Linked DNA regions of Homo sapiens. The protein of the gene in region 1 interacts with the protein of each later gene in a pairwise test. Each region holds a gene or a part of one and is shown in the gene's direction. Other genes may lie near its edges.

Region 1 (3,755 bases):
GCCAACATGGTGAAACCCCGTCTCTACTAACAATACAAAAATTAGCCGGGCGTGGTAGTGCACAACTGTAATCCCAGCTACTTGGCAGGCTGAGGTGGGGGAATCGCTTGAACCCGGGAGGCGGATGTTGCAGTGCGCCAAGATTGCGCCATTGCACTCCAGCGTGGGTGAGACCCCATCTCAAAAAAAAAAAAAAAGAAAAAAAAGAAAAAGAAAATTGTAATTTGATATTTAATTGCCACTTTGGAAAATAAAATCATGCATTTATAAATATCCCACAAAGTTTTAGTAATAAAGATTGTTGATTGCCCTGCTTGCCAGTAAGAAGGAAGAGATTTTGAATACATATAATGCAGAACTGTGTTGTTTATGAATGCCAATTCATGAAGTCTTAACAATTGGTTCTTTATTTTTGTTTTCAATTTATGGCCGAGTTTGGTTTTGCTGTTTTGGACTGTCTCAACTCCCTGCTGATGCCACCATACAGAGTCAGATCAGGTACTAACTTGTTTACTTCAGCAGCAACCTAACTTGATTTTATTACCAGGATAGAGAGCAATATGGATTTCCAACTAGTTTTTAAGGCGTAGATGGTTTTCAAATGATTATTTGTTTTTTAAAGTTTTTGGTTTTGTTTTTAGGTTCCAGTTATACATAGAATAGGAAGTGTACAATAACATTAGGCAGAGGGTAAGGAGAAGAACTTTGGCACAGAAGAGAAAGGAATATTTAATATTTGGGCCTGCTGTTGCTATGATGAAAAACATTTACAAGGTCATACAACTTTAGGGAGCATTTCTGAATTGAGACTAGTATGAAAATGGAATTTAAAGTATCAAATGAAGCCTCCCATAGCCAAAATAATGTATGTTTTGGTTTTGCCCCCTACATATTTGTGAAAACTTTCATGCTAAAACAACAATATACCATTTACCTGCAGAACCTCAGACTTGTTTGATGTTGAAGTCATGCAGTAATTGCATGATTTTTTACTTTCGTTGAACATTGCGAAAGACGGAAAAAATCTGGGACGCCCCCTCTAACATACGCACACGACTTTAAGACACAGATAAAACATTCCTTACATTTGTCAAGATGGAAGCTTACTACTGCCCTTTGCTCTCCTTCAGGTCTTTTCACTTAACACTTTCTACAGTTATACTTAAGTATTTCAGACAAGAGTAAGCAAATATCACGCCTGGGGTTCTTCTTTCGAGGGTATTTTGGCTGGACTGTCACCCACGTTTGGAATGGAAAGTGCAGCACGAGCCGTACATTTTACATTTTTCAGCAACCACATCCCATCACTAGCCTTTGAAGTACAACGACACAGCTGTCTTCATTTTACAAGTGCAAAAACCGAGGTCCTGCGGGGTGACTGCCCCAGACGCCGCTGGTGACGGGCTGCGCCGAGGTCGAGACGCCAGGCTTCAGGTACACGTACCAGAAATGACGTCACAGGCGGTGCCAGGCGGGGATCCACGAGCTCTGGATGCTTGCTTGGCCGGAAGCGACGCCCCGCAAGGACCCGCCCCGCCCCGCCCCGCCCCGCGCGAGCCGGTAGTTGCGCCTCCCAGACTGCAGTTGGCCAGCTCTCGGGGTGCGGAGCCCGGCGGGCTAGGCGAGGCGCGGGCTGGCCCCGCCCCTCAGGCCGGCGAGTCCCCTTCTCAGAGACTTGGCTAGGCGCGGCGCGAGGCGGGCGCTGGGCGGGTGAGTCCCACTTCCCGACAGCCTGGCTCGGCCAGCGACTGGGCGGGGAGACCAAGGATGGAAGTGGGCTTACCGGCCATTACCCTCTTTCTCACCAGCGCCAGCAGCCCTGTGGTGGCGACGACGATGGACCAGGAGCCAGTGGGCGGTGTGGAACGAGGAGAAGCCGTCGCAGCCTCGGGAGCTGCGGCCGCCGCGGCATTCGGGGAATCTGCAGGGCAGGTAGGTGGGGCCGCCGAGGCTGACGTCCGGGGAGCCGAGCCGCCTCCTTGCCTTCTCCGCGGGCCGCTCTTTTAGCCTGCGCGGCCGTCCTCCGAGCAGGCCGCCCCAGCTTTGGAGTTCCTCCTCACTGCACCCCTGTTTCTGCTCACTGAGACCAGCTTGTGGGAAGGAGCGCCCCCCGCCTCACTCACCAACCCCTTGGCTGGCAGCACAGCAGACTCTGGGGCGGCCTCGGGTTCCTGGGGTGATAGTCCAGCTTCTGGTCTACCAGAGGAAGAAGAAAGGCGTGTCCCCCAAAGGCTGTCCTTGCAGTAGCTGGAAGCCAGGTGAGGGCGGCTTCAACCACTTCTCAGTCTCTTCTGGTGCGAGCGCCTGCCTGGGCATCTGCCCTTTGCTTGGCATATGCCAAACGTTTACCAGCTTTAATTCACTGGATCCTTACAGTAACCGCTCGAGGTGGGTGTTAGCCCCATTTCACCGCCGAGGCAACTAAGGCTCCGAGCTGCGCTGTCCAACATAAATAGAATGCAAGCTGCATTGAAAATTGTAATTTAAAATTTTCCAGTAGGCACGTTTTAAAAAAGTGAAACCGATATTAATTTTAATAGCATATCTTATTTAACCTAATTTATCAAAACAATTTCAACCTAAAATTACTATGAAAGTTATTAATGAAGTATTTGCATTCTCTTTTGGAGTCTTTTCTAAGTCTTTTAAATCCTGGGTGCATTTTACACGCATAGCATATCGCAGTTCTGGCTGACCACATTTCAAGTGCGCATTAGCCACATGTGGCTAGTGGTTACTGTATTGGACAGCGCTGGTTTAGAGAGTTAACGTTTCTTGCAACTTTTCAGTATTAGACAAAAAGACACTTTGGGAGGCCAAGGCGGGTGGATCACCTGAGGTCAGGAGTTCAAGACCAGTCTGGCCAACATGGTGAAACCCCTTCTCTACTAAAAATACAAAAATTAGCTGGGCGTGGTGGCGCTCGCCTGTAGTCCCAGCTACTCGGGAGGCTGAGGCAGGAGAATTGCTTGAACCCTGGAGGTGGAGGTTGCAGTGAGCCGAGATCACGCCACTGCACTCCAGGCTGGAGACAGAGCGAGACTCCGTCTCAAAACAGCAACAACAACAACAACAACAACAACAACAAAAAAAAAACCCTTGAGTTGCTCATGTATGTAACTCTTCCCATCCTCCATGAGAATGAAGCTTTTTCAGTAGCTTCATTTTTGAGACTAAGTACCTGAATGTTAGTAAGACATTTCCCCCAAACTGTGAGTATATCTCTGTGTATCTCTTATAGTATAAGATGTCGTTTGCATTAACAAAAGCTTATCCAGCCTGGGCAACAGAGCAAGAACCCATCTCTTAAATAAAAAACTAAAGAAACCCCAAAAACAAAAAACACAACTTTCCCACATACCAAACTCTATATGGAATACGTTTTTTCCCTCCTACTTAAGAAGGGGATTCAGGGGACAACATGAATTGATAAGGAAGCCACGTCATTTTCAGTTGAGTTGAGACCTATTGTTGGCAAGTGCACTTACACTTAACCTTTGAGTCCATGGTGCTTGATATGTTTTTCAATTTGATTTTTCCTGTTGTTACTAGAATTGTTTTTTTAAAATCACTACCTCCGCCCTGGATCTAATAGCAAAGTAAACACACGTGTACTTATATACCAGCTAAATGTTGTTTGAAGTGAGAGGCTCTTTGATTGGGGTTAGTGATATTCTGTTGTTTTCACATTCTTGGTTAACAAATAAGTACTTAACCAGTAAAGAAGGCTGTAGAACAAAAGATAAAAATTCACA
Region 2 (3,655 bases), on another chromosome or scaffold:
GGCCTGCACTACAGCTAAATTATAATAGGTCATTGGAATGCTTGGCACGCAAGGCCCTTTATGTGCTAATTCAAACCTGAATCCTTTTGCTTCTTTACATATTATCTGTATTCCTATTTGCCATTCTCTGAACTTGCAACATACTGTTATTTCTAGTACCTGGAATTCCTCCTGACTTCCATCTTTATCCACCTTTCAAAGATGCTACCTATTGTTTAAAGCTCAATCCGTGAAGCCTACAGATGAAAATATTCCTTCCTTGGAACTTAATATCTTCCTGTTAGTCTTTGCACTGAATTAGTTTTTTATACATTTTTTCTCACCAAAGGCCAGGCCTGCATCTTGCTCATTTCTGTGTTCCTTATAGCACTGGCAAGAGTTTGAACTTTGTAGTTGTTCAGTAAGCATTTGTTGATTAAATGTAAAACTCCAGAGAAAATAGGTGGTACTTAGTATTAACAATTAACATATATTTTTACTTGTATATGGGAATTGATAGGGAGCATCCTCGAATGGGAAAACATCATTTTGGAACTGGACAGGGGTGGGTGGGAAGAGTAGTTGAATGCTGTCTCCTTGCACGTCTGACCATGCACGGTTTCAGAATTCTTGCTGCCTTAACTACTATTACTACCATTTTACAAGTGTCTTAGTTTTCATTTTACCCTACACACTGTATAATGCTATTGGTGAATGCAAATGAGGTGTAAATTCAGATGAGTGAATGTCTTCGTGTGATAGTAGATAGTTTCCAAAGGAGTGATTTTTTTTTCCCATTACAGGCATGTAATGAATTTACTACACATGTGATGAACCTTCTCCGAGAACAGAGTAGAACACGTCCCATTTCTCCAAAAGAGATTGAAAGAATGGTGGGCATCATCCATCGAAAATTTAGTTCCATTCAGATGCAGCTCAAACAAAGCACTTGTGAAGCAGTTATGATTTTAAGATCAAGGTTCCTTGATGCCAGGTATGTGAAGCCATAAATCTATTGCATGGCTTTCCCCCGTCTGTCACTCCTTGTGTATTATTTTCTGTAAAACTGACCAGTTGGTCTTAGATTCTTTTGGCCATATGAGTCTTTTGTACAATGGACAGGTAATTCAACTCATGGTTCCTGTGCTGTCAAGCTTTCCTGTCTGGGAATGGTAATGTGGGTTAGCTGCCAGTTTAGTGACTCAGGAAATGAATAGGATTAGTGTCTCTGCTAATGACTTTAGGAATATGTAGCCTTTCCATTCTGATGCTAAAAGGTATTTTTAAGGATAGTTTTCTGCATATAACTGTTTTAACAAGGGGTATTTTGTAAGAATTTCTTAATGTTACACGGGTTGTGCATAATATGGGAAAATACTTGGAGATACTGATACTCCTAAGAAGGAAGTGGCATTTCAGTTAATAGCAGTTACCACAAAACTCCAGAATCTGTATTTCCAAATCAAGAAAGAAAGCCTACCATTTTTCCTGTAAGGATGAAAATTTCCCTTTATCTGAAGCTTTCCCCAAGTTTCACAGGAGTTAGGTAATATATTGTATATGGTAATAAATTGTCTACAGTGACCTACTGAGTGACAGAACAGAAGAATTGTCAACGTCATAGTGTACGCTGCCCCTGTAGGGATGCCTCTCGGGGCATTGCTAAAGCTTATGATGAATCTGCAGCTTTGGAAAGAAGTTTCTATTTTGTTTTTCTTTCTTCTCCCATGGAATCTGACAGAGGTGATAATTATCATCCAAATCTCACAGTATTAAAGGAAATAACTAAGATAGCTTCTCAACTGGAAAACAAAGTGTGTGGAGCATTTTCAGTGTTTTTCATTTTAGCTCTTTATTTTCATCTCAGTTCCTGCCCATCCTTTTGTACATGGGCTAGCACAGTACCTACTAGTCTCCCTGTCTCCAGTCCTACTGCCCTCCAGCCCATCCTCCATATCCCTTGTCTGTTTCTATAACATCACCGTGCTACCATGATTGCTTTGCTTGAAAACCACAGTAGCTTTCCAATGCTCGATACATGCATACTTCACATATACACTCCTTAACCTGACATTTAAGGCCTGTTCCTGTCTGCATTACTTCTTTGTTGTTGTGAAGATTTTATTATTCTTTTTTCTATTTTAAAAATGCCAAGCTCACTATGGAAAGTTTGGAAAATATATGGAATAAAAGGATGAAGGATAAAAGTTAACCTCATTTTTATTACCTAAAGAAAAAATCACTATAAATGTTTTACAATATTCTCTCTCTTTTTGTTTGTTTGGGGGCTTTTTAAAAGAAATATTTCTGTGATGGGTCAATATGCATAATTTGGTCTGCTTTTTAAAAAATTTACCATGAATACATGAACATTTTCATGTAGTATAAGCTCTAATTATTAATAGCATTTTAACAATTGAAGTTACCAAATGGATATAAAATAAATAATGTCCTTAGCATTCCCTTATGCATTCCCTATGCACTCCACCCAGGCTGGAGTGCAGTAAATGATGCTATCATGGCTCACTGCAGCCTCGACATCCCATGCTCGAGTGATCTTCCTGCTTCTGCCTCCCGAGTAGCTGGGAGGCATTTGCCACCATGCTCGGATAATTTTTGTATTTTTTGTAGAGATGGTGTTTCACCATGTTGCCCAGCCTGGTCTTGAACTCCTGAACTCAAGCTATCCTGCCTCCCAAAGTGCTGGGATTATAGGCAGGAGCCACCATGCCCAGCCAACTATTAATTTTCATATAATTTCTTCCTTTCTTCCTTCCTTCCACAAATATTTATTGGTACTGAGGATATATTGGTAAACAAGACAGATTAATATACTTGCCCCAATTGAGCTTATATTCTACTTGAGGAAACAGACAGTAAACAGGTGAACAAATATACCATAACATTCTATTTAATAATGTAATTAAATGTAATAGGGTGATAAGTGGTATGCAGAAAAATAAAGCAAGTCAAGGGGAGAGAAAATGGAGAGGGTACTATTTTAGATAGATTTTTATTTAAACTAACATTTTAATGAAAATCTTCATTGATTGAACCTTTTTGGTCTTTAGGATTATTTCCTAAGGATCAATTCTTAGAAATGGAATTATTAGATCTGAGTTTGAACATTTTCAGTGTTCTTATTTATATATCACTAAATTGTTCTTTCCTGTGTTTCTTCCAAAATGAAATGCTTCATGGAATTATGTTTCTACTGCTTAGAATTCCTTCTTTTCCTAAGTCTAACCACTTACTTCCCTGGCTCCCACAACAAACTGTCTCTCTAAGCTGGTTACCAGTAATGAGTCATCATCTGTGAGGGTATCTGGAATGGAGCCCGGAATGGAACCAGTGCTTGTACTTGTTGGATCTAGTGAGATCTTGCTCATCGTTCCGGATCTGGTCTAAATGCTCGCTTTTCAGAAAATCCACCTTAATCACCCTGCTGGACTAGCCCTTCCTTCCCTTGAACACTTATACTATGTTTACGCAACTATTCAGACTGAAAGTCATGTAGGCTCCTTTTTCTTGTAGTTTTTCATGAACATTTCTTCTCTCCCTTAGTAAGCCACAGTGTCATTGAAAGCAACAGCCAAGACTTACACATTTGCATTCCCCACAATTCTAGCAAATGACTTACATGTTAGAGGCTACCAAAAATAATTTATTGACTGGC

The links.
Region 2: the proteins of FAM177A1 (region 1) and PBX3 interact in a two-hybrid assay, tested with the Homo sapiens proteins (one large-scale study listed by BioGRID).

What each region holds. Positions count from the first base shown.
Region 1 is NC_000014.9:35,044,697-35,048,451, forward strand, and holds the start of FAM177A1 (protein FAM177A1 isoform 1 precursor), read left to right. Parts: upstream 1-1,575; 5' UTR 1,576-1,767; coding exon 1,768-1,932; intron 1,933-3,755.
Region 2 is NC_000009.12:125,928,873-125,932,527, forward strand, and holds part of PBX3 (pre-B-cell leukemia transcription factor 3), read left to right. Parts: intron 1-782; coding exon 783-973; intron 974-3,655. UniProt on the Homo sapiens protein: Transcriptional activator that binds the sequence 5'-ATCAATCAA-3'.